Regions from separate parts of the Homo sapiens genome. Here regions 2, 3 and 4 are each reported to be linked to region 1. The links are microRNA targets in miRTarBase. Many come from high-throughput screens and were not tested one by one. Region 1 holds a microRNA gene; each other region holds the end of a gene's coding sequence.
The links. Region 1 holds the annotated microRNA hsa-miR-199b-3p (ACAGUAGUCUGCACAUUGGUUA, at 2,131-2,152, opposite strand). A microRNA usually pairs through its seed, bases 2 to 8, with sites in the 3' UTR of a target mRNA and lowers its output. Matches are read on the target gene's strand: a 7mer-m8 pairs with bases 2 to 8, a 7mer-A1 pairs with bases 2 to 7 and ends in A, and an 8mer does both.

Region 1 (3,148 bases):
ACAGTTCTAGCACTTTCTAAGAAGGAAGTGGATATTGGTTGTTTCTGAGCGTGACAGCTGGGGCTTGACACCCGGAAGTCACCAGGATATTGGTTGGGTGGTGTCAACCCTTCGTGTCTCGTCTCCCCACCTATAAAGTCAGGACTCTGGCCTGTCCCCTCTGGACTGCGGGAACCAGTGGGGGAATTCTGGTACTTGAGCCCAGGACTGTGCCTGGCTCACTGCATGTGTCCCAGGTTTTGTCCTGGTAACTACCAGCATCAAGTCCTCCCAGCTCCTCTCTGTAGGAGGGAACCTACCCACCTACCCCCAGTGCACAGAGGAGGAGCTGGAGGCTGTGTCAGGTGCAGGGCCAGCTGGCCAGTCCCCATGGTCCCTGGGATGGCACAGCCACCAACTCAGTCCAGGCAACCTCAGTGGAGAGGCTGGGGTTGCCTGAGGCCCCTGGAGCCGCCCTGCCTGGCTCTCTTCCCCTTGGGTTTGGGGGAATGCTCTGTAGGAGTGCCCCCCACTGGGGACTTGCTGGCACCCAACCCAGCCCCAGGATAGGCAGGACTGGGCTTGGAAGTCCCAGACTTAGAGAGAAGGCAGGCTGGGGGGCCCCGGCTGGCCCCAGGGAGAAGCAAAGAGAGGCGGGCCTCTTGGCTATGGACCCCTGCTCTGTGCTGGGCTCATTGGCTAAGAGAGCCCACTGAGGCCACACCTGAGGAGAACCCTACTCCCCGTGAGGAAACCCTCACGCTTGCTATTCGGGTGGCTCTGTGGTCACCCCCATCTAAGGCTCTGAGCGGTGACTTGCCCCACATCATGGAGCGGGGGAGGGTCCCCCTGGGGTGGAGGCTTCCCCAGTGCACGTCTGCGGGCCCATGCTCCCTGACCTGAGGGACACCCCAGCCCGACATCCGAACACCTCCGCTGCAGCCCAGGCCTGATGTCCCCTTGACTGAGGACATTGGGGGTGAAAGGATCATCCCGCTCCACATGAGGCCAGACGCTCATCTCTGGAATGTTCCTGAAACCTCAGGAGCCCTGAGGCTTCTGCGGGACTCTGGGGCGCTGTTTCTAAACCCAGGGTGGTGGAGTCTGCTGAGCCACCATACAAGCATTTCTGGGGTCCCTGTGGAAGCTTCCAGAACCTCAGATCCAGCGAACCTCATGGGGTTGGGATGTGGGAGGAGTGTGGAGCCAGGCGTGGTCTGCAGCCTTCTCCCCGCCTCAGGCACCTCTAGGAACTCACGTGTCCAGATCGGATGGCTCCTCAAAATGGCTGGGGTGGGGTAGGGTGCCCTTTCTCTTTTTCTCCCCTCTTTCCGCCTTGCAGTGAGAAACCAGCCTGCGCTGTGGTGTGTGGGCTGTCAGGCCGGCTGAGAGCTGGTGCCCTGCCTTTCAGTTCAGGGCTGTGGGGACCTTCCAGGGTCCCCTGGGTGGGAATGCCAGGCCTGGGGCAGCGAGCCTTGGAGGAGCCTCTGGGCCTGAACCTCAGCCTGGCAGCTCTCTGCCTGGCAGCATTGCAAGTCTAGTTTTCAGATCTCCTCTTCCTTCACGTGAGGGGCCCTTCGTGTTTTTCTCATCTGAGAGTTGAAAGCCAGAGCCCCCGACCCTCCCGTGGAGCCCCACACTGGAGTCTGGAGCAGCAGTGGGAGAAGGGCCGGGCGCCGGCCGTAATGAGAAACAGCCGACCTGTGAAAGGGGCCCTGTGTGAGCCCCAGACACAAAGCAGGCTCCATTCAGGAGGGGGCAGCCATGGAACCTGACCCCCGCCACCACCCAAGTTAGGATCCCAGCAGGGACCCTTGGAGTCACACACGTGGCAGCCACCCCTGAGGAGGAGGCCACCCTCTTAGATGCCTCAGTGAGACACAAGACATCAATATCTCTTTATTTAAAAAATAAACAAGACATTTACAGCCATGGGGTGGGGATGGCAGACTGATAGGGCCAGGGCCTCCAACCCCTCGGCCGGCCTCGGGGCTCCCTCTGCCTTTCCCCAGTGCCTCTTCTCCCACCCAGGCCCTCGAATCTTCTATGCGAGGCTCTGCCACAGTGGGAAACGGGGTGGTGGAAAATGACACTCACCTGCCGGCGAGTTTGGGGGGCCTGTCTCGACGAGCCGCTCACCCAAGCCCAGCCTAACCAATGTGCAGACTACTGTACACATTGAGAGCCTCCTGAACAGGTAGTCTGAACACTGGGTTGGCGGGGCCGGCTATCCATCCTGCAGAACCCCCCAGGCAGACGCTGGGGCCACCAGGCCAGGCCGTGCCTCAGCACCTCTGAGCAGCCAAGGAAACCACCACTCTTCCCGAGACGATCCGCTCTGTCCCTTCTGACGTGGCAAGGCTGGGGCCGGCTCGCATCTGGAGAAAGTTCTGGGTTTTCAGGAAATCCTAAAGAGTGGGGGAGGCGGAGCAGGAGGCAGGGTTTGGGATCGTGGCTTCTGGGCTCAGGAGGAATGTCTGACTCTTTGGGGGTCGGGGGTGGGGAGGAGGGGCGCACACACACGTGTGTGTGTGTGTGTGCGCGCGCGCGCACGCGTGCGTGCCGGCAGCACCAGGAAGGCGGCCACTGATTTCTCGGCGGAATCGCACTGTAAACAGTTCCAGATGTGGCATTAGCTGGAATGGCCTGTGACTCAGTTACTTGGCCCTGCTGGCTGGAAGCTTCCGGCCGCGTGATATGATAGGGTCAGGGCAGCAAAGGCCCTTGGGCAAACGTCCGAGCCGGGGGCAGGGCTTCTGCAGAGCCCCCTCCCCTAGCCCCTTCTAAAGCCCCCAAAACTCTTCCCCGAAAGGTGGGAGGGACCCAGGCCCTGTGTTACCCAGCCTTGCCTGGGATGACGGGTGCAGGCTTTCTTCATCACCTTCCCTCCCTTGGGTCCGCAGCGGCATCCCTCCCTCCATGGCCACCGGGCCCCTCTCCTATGCTCTGCTCCCTCCATGGCCACCGGGCCCCTCTCCTATGCTCTGCTCCCTCCATGGCCACCGGGCCCCTCTTCCTATGCTCTGCCCTACTTCTTTGCCTAGAGCCTGGCAGGCTAATCCTGGAGCCGCTCACAAGAGCAACCAAAGAAAATCCCGGGTGCTCATGGGCACCAGCTCTGCAGTGGGCACCAAGCTCCTCCATCCTCCTTGGATAGATGAGGAAACTG
Region 2 (3,000 bases), not on the chromosome of region 1:
TATGTTAAATTTCCTGAACAATATTCTTACAATATGTGAATAAAACCAAATTTAACTTTTTAAAGCCCTTTTTAGGATGTGCTTGTGCTCACTGTGTAAATTGTGATGCTCATCCTGCTGGTGAATTGTGAAAGTGTCAGTAGAGATTTCCAGATGAAAGAATGTTATCCACTTTTGTTGTTATTTAACACCACCATCATCTTTCTCTTTCAAAAATCATTTCAGATTGCCATTTACATTTGTAACTAAGGAAGTAGCTGAAGCCACATGTAATTGCCTCCTTGCCCAGGCAGAGCAGGCAGACAAGAAGGGAAAATCAAAGGCAGCAGCGGAACGGATGATACTTGAGGAATTCGGACGATGTTTGATGAGTGTCATCAACTCTGCAGGAAAGGCAAAAAGTGACCCTTGTGCCATGAATTGCTAACTCTTGCACAAAAGACTGATAAATGGAACTGTACAGAAAATTTAAGGTGCAGGGACACTTGATTTTCTGGAAGAAAAACAATTACTGTATTTTAATTCAGTCCTTGTTTTAAAAGACCTGAAATTATAATACTGAAGGAGAAGAAATTTTAAATGAGGAAATTAGTACATTTTAAATCTTAGTTAAATCTGCTTATGCCCCTTCTAAATTGAATTTTTCTTTATTATATAGATTTTTTAATTTGCTTGGGTTTCTTAAGAATTAGATGTTCTCTTTCTGATACCTTTGACAAAAAATGTTTATAAATTCATATAATTTATAATGTATGGTGTTGTATGACTTTGTTAATAGAAAAGCCAAAGCAGCAGTGGTTAGCACCCATTCTTTGGGACTTGATCTAGAATATCTGCAGACAGAATGTTACATAAACAAATTCTTATGAAACACATTCAAATGACATTTTGTATTTAGAAAAGGACTATCTTTTAAAGAAAAAGCAGCCTTTTAGGGCCGATTCTGGAATAATATCCTGTTGTCACTTTGGGAATGTCAGAAGGGGAAACAATCCCCAGGCACACTAAAAATTTTTTAAAGTTATTTAAAAAAACATATAAAATATTAAAGGACAGTAAATCTCAGAGGATGGGCAATGTGTTTCTATAATAAGGAAAGGCTAACAGATGCTCTGGGCTGTCTCCATTTTCTTTCAAAGAGGTGGTATGTATTTGAAGTAATAAATTGTCAAAGTGATTACTGGGTACTATTAAAATGATAGGTGGATATAAATGGAAGTAAACATTATGTAGTGATAATATAGAACCTCACATAGTAATCAAGTATAAAATTTGGCATGGGTGGAGAAACAAAGAATAGGGAAGCTGCAAAAGATGAATTTAGAGAAGTTTTCATCTATACAATCAATTATTTTTACAGACTTTTTTTTTTTTTTTTTTGAGACGGAGTCTCGCTGTGTAGCCCAGGCTGGAGTGCAATGGTGAGATCTCAGCTCACTGCAACGCCTCTGCCTCCCAGGTTCAAGCGATTCTCCTGCCTCAGCCTCCCGTGTAGCTGGGACTACAGGTGCATGCCACCATGCCCGGCTCATTTTTTGTATTTTTAGTAGAGACGGGGTTTCACCGTGTTAGCCAGGATGGTCTCGATCTCCTGACCTCGTGATTCGCCCGCCTCGGCCTCCCAAAGTGCTGGGATTACAGGCATAAGCCGCCGTGCCAGGCCCTTTTTATAGACTTTTGAACTAAGAGGTTTCAAACCAAATCGCAACTCTTACTTGATTTACAGAAATGGGCCTCCTAACAAAATTTTCAAAATTGTGGTGGGATTTCTTTTTATAAGGGAAGTTTAATATGGCATTATTTTCAGCCAGTGATTTGGAAGGTCTGTTTTCCTATAATTACTAAAATAACCTAAATCATTTTCAGTATTCAAAAACTCTATGAATTTAAGAGCCTGTTGTGACAGGACTCTTGATTTTATGACAAGAAAAAACCATGTTGGAATTCAGGCATTTTGTTAGGTACCTTAATCATCAGTAATTAGTATATGATTATTTCATTTCCTACAAGGACTCTATAGTTGTATGTATTAAGTGTGTATATATGTTCATATGAACATGCAAGATATAGGCAATAGAAATTAAGTAATCCAAAAGAGGATTCCGTTATTCACTAAAGTATCTTCCTTTTAAATTTGGATTTATAAAATCATAGTGCAGTAACTTTAAATGTAGATAGTTCAAACATTCTTAGCACCTCAATCTAGTATGTTTAATTAAAATTTGTATAAATGTAAATTAGTGTAAGAGGGTAAAATAATAATCAAGTTATTTTTCAAAAGATTGCAATAAGTTTTTGGTCTAAACTTAAACTTTGTTCATTTTGTACATACTCTGTGTTAATTCTAATTGCACCTTTGTGATGTGTATTTATATACAGTGTGCAGAAAATGTTCGTGAAATTTTGATTACAATTGTAGATTATGTATGATGGCATTGCTTACGAATGTTTTGCTTGTAAAAAAATTTCAAGGTGCAATCAAATGCTACTAGTTTTTCTGATTTTCAAAAATCTATCTATCTAAAATATTAAGCCTTTTCCTTCCTGTGTAGTACTTACTAAATAACTTTTTGTATTCAGGCATTTGCATCAAATTGCTGAACAAGATGAATAGCCACATTAATTCAATGATTTTAAAAGACTATTTGGGGAGGGTTGGGTATATAATTTTTTAGCTCTATTTACATCCCAAAGTAGAAAGATTAAATTTATATTTACTAGAGCTATTCAAAGAATACACTTTTCTATATTGTAAAAACAGGACAGCAAAGTAAATCATACAGAAAATAAACATTTATACTATTCTGTAAAAAAGGTTTTGCATTTTTTCTTTAGTATAATAACACCACTTTATTAACCATTTAATATGCAAAAAACCTTTTAAATTATCTGAAGTAAATTTGACATTACTTCTGAAAACACACAACTAAAAAATTCTATCATTTTGCTCAGTTATTACTAACATAAATTGCTTTGAAATGAGAATATGTCTTCTCTTTT
Region 3 (3,000 bases), not on the chromosome of region 1:
ACTGTTAATACCTATTCTCACCCCCTGCTTGAGGCAGCCTCTAATCTACTCTCTGTCTTTATGGATTTGCATATTCTGGAGATTTTATATAATATGTGGTCTCCTGTCTGGTTTCTTTCACTTAGCATCATTTTTAGCATGAATGCCATAGCATGTATCAGTACTCATTCCTTTTCATTGCTGATCTTGACGGCCTTTTGTGTTTGCCATAGGTCACAGTCACCAGCTGTTTCACGTGTGTGTGATCCTGGCCACGCACATGCAGATGGAAGCCATACTTCTGGACAAGACTCTGAGGAAGGAATGGCTCCTGGCCACCTCCAAGCCCTTCTCTTTCTCTCAGATAGCTGGAGCCATACTTCTGTGCATCATCTTCAGCCTCAGCAACATAATTTATTTCTCAGCTGCTCTGTATCGGATTCCCAAGCCAGAATTACATAAAAAAGAAACATGACTCAGACCATAAGCTTTTCATGCCAGATGTCAACATTAAGCTGCAACATCCTAACCACCATAAGCCGGAGGTGGTTACAGCTTATCATGGCCTAAAATATTCATAATGGTTGGTGTCTTTTGAATGAATTCATGTCAAAAATGTTATTCAGCTGGGGAAATTTCTCTAAATGTACACTGATTCTGTGTGTGTGATTTTAAAAGGAGAATATGGTTCAAGCAAGTCCTTGTTAAGGCAAACTATTGATATTTCATTAATTTTAAATTTACTTAAAATGTGGTTTTAAATTCTATTTAAACATTTGGATTAAGCATATTACTCTGGAGCTTTGTATTATTCTTTAAAAATGAATCTTGCTTCATTTGATGAATTTCATGTCACAAAGCTTCTCTCAAGAGCTCTCGTAGTGGCCTGTCAACCACTTTCGGAGAATGAGCCAGGTCAGTCACTGGGAGGACCTGTGAAAGAAAGTTGGTCACTGAGTGCCTTGGGGACTGGCAAAACATTCCAGAATGAAGAGAGCTGTCTGGGGAGAGCCCTTCTTCCCTTCTCCACCTAGTGAAGGGAGAACAGAAGGGGAGTCCTCTCTTCCCACAAGTCCATTCTGCCTTCAAAGTGTAAGTTCTCATGTCATTATGGATTTGGAGTTTGTCAGTTTTTTTCTTAAAAGTCCACAGCGGGGTGTCATGTGTTCTGTTATGTTCTGTTTTCTGGTTGCCAGTTTGATCTGCAAAGTATTTTTCAGTGCAGGTAAAATGTGTTAAACCATAAGAGTTGACTGAGTTAATCCCAATTGGTTGTGCTCATATGCCACCTTTTAAACCAATGGAAATTGCTATATTTGGGGATGTCATACATTTGATATTGCTTCAGCATTTCAAATATGTTGCAAAATTTAGTATCCATATGCATAAGAAGTTAATCACCTTGCCAGTGGGGTGGTCACATATAGTGTTCTCAAGCTTTACTGTGAATCAGAAACATCCAGTAAGCTTGTGACAAATGCAGACTCCTAGGGAAAACCAGGGGGTTCTGCTTCACTAGGTTAAATGTAGGTTTTGTAGAGGAGATCTGCACTGGAGCAAGTCTCCCAGATGATTCTAATACAGGAGGGCCAGAGGCCAAACTTGAAGAACTGCTGGTGTTACATGTTCCAAAAGGCATTAGACCTATCAGCTTTGTTTCGCCTGATCTCAAGTTTTAGCAACTCACCAACTAAGGCGTAACCTCATTTTATGTTCCAGCGTTTTCTACTCTGAATAGTTCTAAAACACTGAGCATTTTCTCATTTGTTGCATTACTGATTAAAGTTCAGTATTTCATGGTGTTTTCAGGGAACACAGAAATGCGGATGCAAAACAACTTTTGACAGAGGCCCATCAAACCCAGATCTGCACTTGGTAATGACTTAGGGGGGCTTCCTCACAATGCAGGATCCTCTTTGCTGACTCAGGAATACTCCATATTTTAGACTACTGCCTCTACCATTAACTAGCCCAGACATTTGAATGGCCTTGTAAACAGCTCACTGTCTAATACTCGAAGGACAAGTAACAATTTATATTGGATGAGAGTGGTCAAGAAATATGATTTCGTTAGTTTTATTATCTGTTTACTTCCTCTGGGGAAGGCAGACTGATAAAATTATATGGGCTGGTAAATTTTTGGTACATTAATTGCAAGCTGCATGACAAAATTTGTTTTTCTGGCAACAATCTGACATTATTAGTGGAATTCCACACCAACAGGGCTTGTGAGCTTCCATTTCATCTTACTGTAACTTCAATTTTATGGCAAAAAAAGGTACAAAGTTTAAATACCCCTTTCTAGTAATGCCAAAGACATACAGTGTTTTACATTCTCTCCTTTATAGGTAACAAAATAATGTTTAGCTCAGTAAGTACTGAAATAATGAGTGACCAATTTGAAGGATTTTTAGATTATTTAATCTTTGCTTATGTTGCTTTTTCACATGCTTAATGATGGAAATGAAATGTTAAATCAACAAAATAAGATCCAGTGTTTCATAACATTTTTATAAGTTTGGTAAACTTTAGTCCCATTATATACTTTTGGGGACAGTGTTATAAATCAGAATTTTACGACAGTTTGCAGAACACTGATTTGAAAGCTTCCTATGCAAAATGAGAAGGGGTTCAAATATATTAATTATCATTAAGTATTAAATAATAGGCATTAGATGTCTAATGTGAGTATAATTTCATCCAAGCCATCTCAGAAAGTCTAAAAGGTTGGCAGGGGGTCAGCTGAAGACCTCACTGGAGTGGGTCTTAATTTTTAAAAAGTGTCTCACTACATTTAAGACATGTGACACATTCCCATTGGTAACAATTGCTCACCATGGCATTGTCTCAAAAAAGACTATGGTGGGGAGGGTGGCACATTCCTAATGGGATGTACCTCTCCCCACTCCCCTTGCTTGAGAAGCACTACTCAAAAATTTACCAGACCTTACAACTGTGATAAAACTTGAATGTGTATGATGAATAAGGCCATTCAGTTAACTTTACCTCCCTTTACCCATT
Region 4 (3,000 bases), not on the chromosome of region 1:
TTACTGTGAGACTCAAGCTCAGGGCTCCCACTTGCGGACCCTTCTGTCCTGCTGCAGGAGGATTTTCAGGCCCTGTGAGAATGAGGGAAGCCAGTTTGGCTCTGGGAGAGGGCATCTCAGCTGAGCTAGCTTGGGAACCCAAGCTTTGATTTGGCCTCAGTCTGACTATCTAAGAAAAGGTACGGTGCTGGGCTCAGCTGCCTCCTTGGCTTGGAGAAGGGCTAATGCTGACCAATCCATCCAGCTCAGGCCCCCAAATACCAACAAGACTCTGTACTCTGAAGACAATTGTTTCCTTGCTTCTCTTTTGAGACTGGGGAGGCAGGGTCGTGAGCATTGGCACAGATCTCAGTTCCCGGGAAAGTGCCCTTCAGACTCAGCCCAGGTGTCAAGCTTGCTTTACTCCCAGCCCTGAATCTCAATAGGCTGGGAGTGGACAAAGTCAGCCCTTATCCAAGAAGATGACCATTCCAGGGCTTGGGCCTCCATTTACTAATCTGTAAAACATTAAAAACCCCTGCCGCCACCCACCCCTCACAGGGTGGCTATTAGGAGGATGTGCTAAGAAAATGGGTGTGAGGGCTTTCCTCACACTGGTCTGGGCACCTTCTTCACTGTTCTCACTATCCATTTCCAAATGCACTTCTAATCCAAGTTTATCCATTTTGGGGAACAAATCACTCAGTTCTACCAAAGAGAGATGGGTCTTCCAAGTCATCGTAAAGTTTAGGACCCTCTATTGGAATCCCTGATGTAAATGCAGATTCCTGGGGCCCTGGCCCGGATGCACTGAGAATCTCCAGGAGGGCCCATGTGATCTGATTACACACGCTCAAGTGCAAGAGCCACTGTTTTAGTCTTGAGCAAACAAGGCCTGTCTGGGACCAGGAAGAGAAACAAGGGAGATAAAAACTCTCCAAATGCCAGTTGGTGTGGGTGGATGTAATTCCAGGGAAGAAGGGGGAAAGGCCCTGGGCTTCATCTGGCCCAACTCCAATTTGCCAATTTTTCTGACAAGGAACTTAGGGCCCAGAATGCACAATGCATCTTTTGTTTTTAGAGACAGGGTCTTGCTGTCACCCAGGCTGCAGCCTTGAACTCCTGGACTCAAGCAATCCTCTGGCTTCAGCATCCCAAGTGGCTGGGACAACAGGTCACAGAGGACGTCTGGGTGACCCAAGGTATCGTTAAGGTAGGCCTGCTATTTCCTTGCTCTCTAAGCCCTTAGCACTCCTTCCCTCACCTGTGTGTGTGCAAGGAGTTCTGCACCTGCCTGGTCCAGACTTCCTTCCAGTGGCAGCTCATGCCCCTCTTGGTTCCTTGTCCAGTGAGAGGCATGAGCTAAGTAGCATTTTTCAAACTCCCCCTCTTAGTCTTTTTAAATCCAGAGATAAGATTTGTAATTTTCATGATGGTAGAACAACTGATTTTTTTCTCCCAGAAAGAAAAAAGGTATTTTCTAGTTCTTTCACTGTTTATTAAAGACCTTGGGCTCAGTGGGCCCTCCTGTCTGGGCCTTCTAACCGGGGCAGCCAGGTGAGCTCTCCCTCTGGAGACTCTGGCTCGGTGGGAGGTCTGACTCACCCCCTACCTTCAGGGGTTTCCAGTGTGTTCTCCTAGTAGCTTCAGCCAGCACAGGGCCAAGGGTTCTTGGCACAGATGGCACACGGTACACATACCTCTGTCACCAGGCTGGCAGGCAGTCCCGGAAAGGGATGGAGGAACACACAGGTGGACCCCAGGGCCTGATGAGACCTGCCTTTCACTAGCACCCATCTCCCTCCTTTTCACTTCATGGTACTGATGAGAGACTCAACCAACTGTTTTAACAAACATGTTTATTAGAAAAGTAAAAAATATTGCATAGGTCTTAATACTTGAACATCAAGTGTATTCATGAACAGTGAGTATCTTATCTTCATGTAAACAGTTCTAGATGGAAGACCCAGATGGCACTCCTCCCGGGGAGGGGTTCCAGCCCCCACCCTCTCAGCCCCTCCCCTGCCAGCTCAACTCTGCAGTACACGATGGGGGAAGGCTTAAACGCAGCTGCCAGGTGTAATTTTTCAAGTGTCAAAGATCCCAAGTGATCCCTGACACCCACCCCTTCCTACTCTTACATTCATGCGTCTGTAAGATAGCTGCCTACAACAGGTCAGTAGTGATGCTCCGATCAGAAAAACAAGATACAAAACAAACAACAAACACACTTGGTCCCTTCAGACCAGTAAGATACACAAACCACCTCCACGACCTCCGACCTCCCCCCTCCCTCCGGCTGCTCTGAGGAGCACGTGCCTCTTCCTTCACCCTGGGCCGGGCTGGGGCGGGAGCAGCCCAGCTGCTCTCTGGATGTCACACCACTGTTAACTGTCAGTAACAAAAATAATAAGGTACATGCTACACACACATCCAGCTGGAAGCCTTGTTGGCCCCTAAGCCTTTGTTTCATGCTACAGTACTGAGGGGTATGTGTCCCCAATGCACAGCCACCCGCACACAACTCAATGAGCTTCCTGGGAAACACTATTCCCCCACCTCCACCTTAGGTGGCTGCCTCAGTTTTCCAACCACAGGAATCAGTCCCTCAGCTCCTGCCTCTAGTCTCCACCCCAAAAGTTCAGTCGTCTCTGTCTTGGAGGGCACTGTCGGCCCCCTCAGGTTGAAGTTCAACACTCCTCAATGAGCAGCTGTTCCGAGCTGTACAGCTTCTTCTTGATGACTCGGAAGCCAGTGCTCAGCGTCAGGGACTGGCTGAAGCCAGGGAGGAAGGGAGAGTTGGCGGAGCTAAACAGCCCCTGGATCTTGGGCCAGAGTCGTGAGTCCAGGCGCAGCACGAGGGTCAGCTGGAAGGTGGGCACCAGGCTGGGGTCGAGTGCCAGCTGGCCCACGCTGTGGCAGCTCTTGCCCTGCTCCACGCAGACGTCCAGCAGCGCCCCCCGCAGGCCGCACGGCTCGCTGTAGGCCAGGCGCAGTAGTTCTTTGCCCACCTGGCTTACC

Region 2: miRTarBase lists LIN54 as a target of hsa-miR-199b-3p. The part of its 3' UTR that is shown has no 7-base or 8-base seed match.
Region 3: miRTarBase lists PAQR5 as a target of hsa-miR-199b-3p. Seed matches in the 3' UTR shown: 7mer-m8 at 1,926-1,932.
Region 4: miRTarBase lists DDIT4 as a target of hsa-miR-199b-3p. Seed matches in the 3' UTR shown: 8mer at 2,156-2,163.

What each region holds. Positions count from the first base shown.
Region 1 is chr19:10,815,299-10,818,446 of GRCh38, forward strand. MIR199A1 (microRNA 199a-1) reads right to left here and starts at 2,198; the gene lies at 2,128-2,198. All of the region lies in intron 15 of DNM2 (dynamin 2), which reads left to right.
Region 2 is chr4:82,925,529-82,928,528 of GRCh38, reverse strand. LIN54 (lin-54 DREAM MuvB core complex component) reads left to right here. Exons shown (of 13, transcript NM_194282.4): 13 at 226-3,000. The coding sequence ends at 427. Among named protein-coding and RNA genes, the nearest start is that of THAP9-AS1, 26 kb to the right of the region's middle.
Region 3 is chr15:69,403,369-69,406,368 of GRCh38, forward strand. It overlaps PAQR5 (progestin and adipoQ receptor family member 5), which reads left to right. Exons shown (of 9, transcript NM_017705.4): 9 at 213-3,000. The coding sequence ends at 454. All of the region lies in intron 1 of KIF23-AS1 (KIF23 and PAQR5 antisense RNA 1), which reads right to left. Among named protein-coding and RNA genes, the nearest start is that of KIF23, 9.5 kb to the right of the region's middle.
Region 4 is chr10:72,274,858-72,277,857 of GRCh38, reverse strand. DDIT4 (DNA damage inducible transcript 4) reads right to left here. Exons shown (of 3, transcript NM_019058.4): 3 at 1,822-3,000. The coding sequence ends at 2,670. Among named protein-coding and RNA genes, the nearest start is that of DDIT4, 2.4 kb to the right of the region's middle. RefSeq lists an enhancer at 1,768-2,291.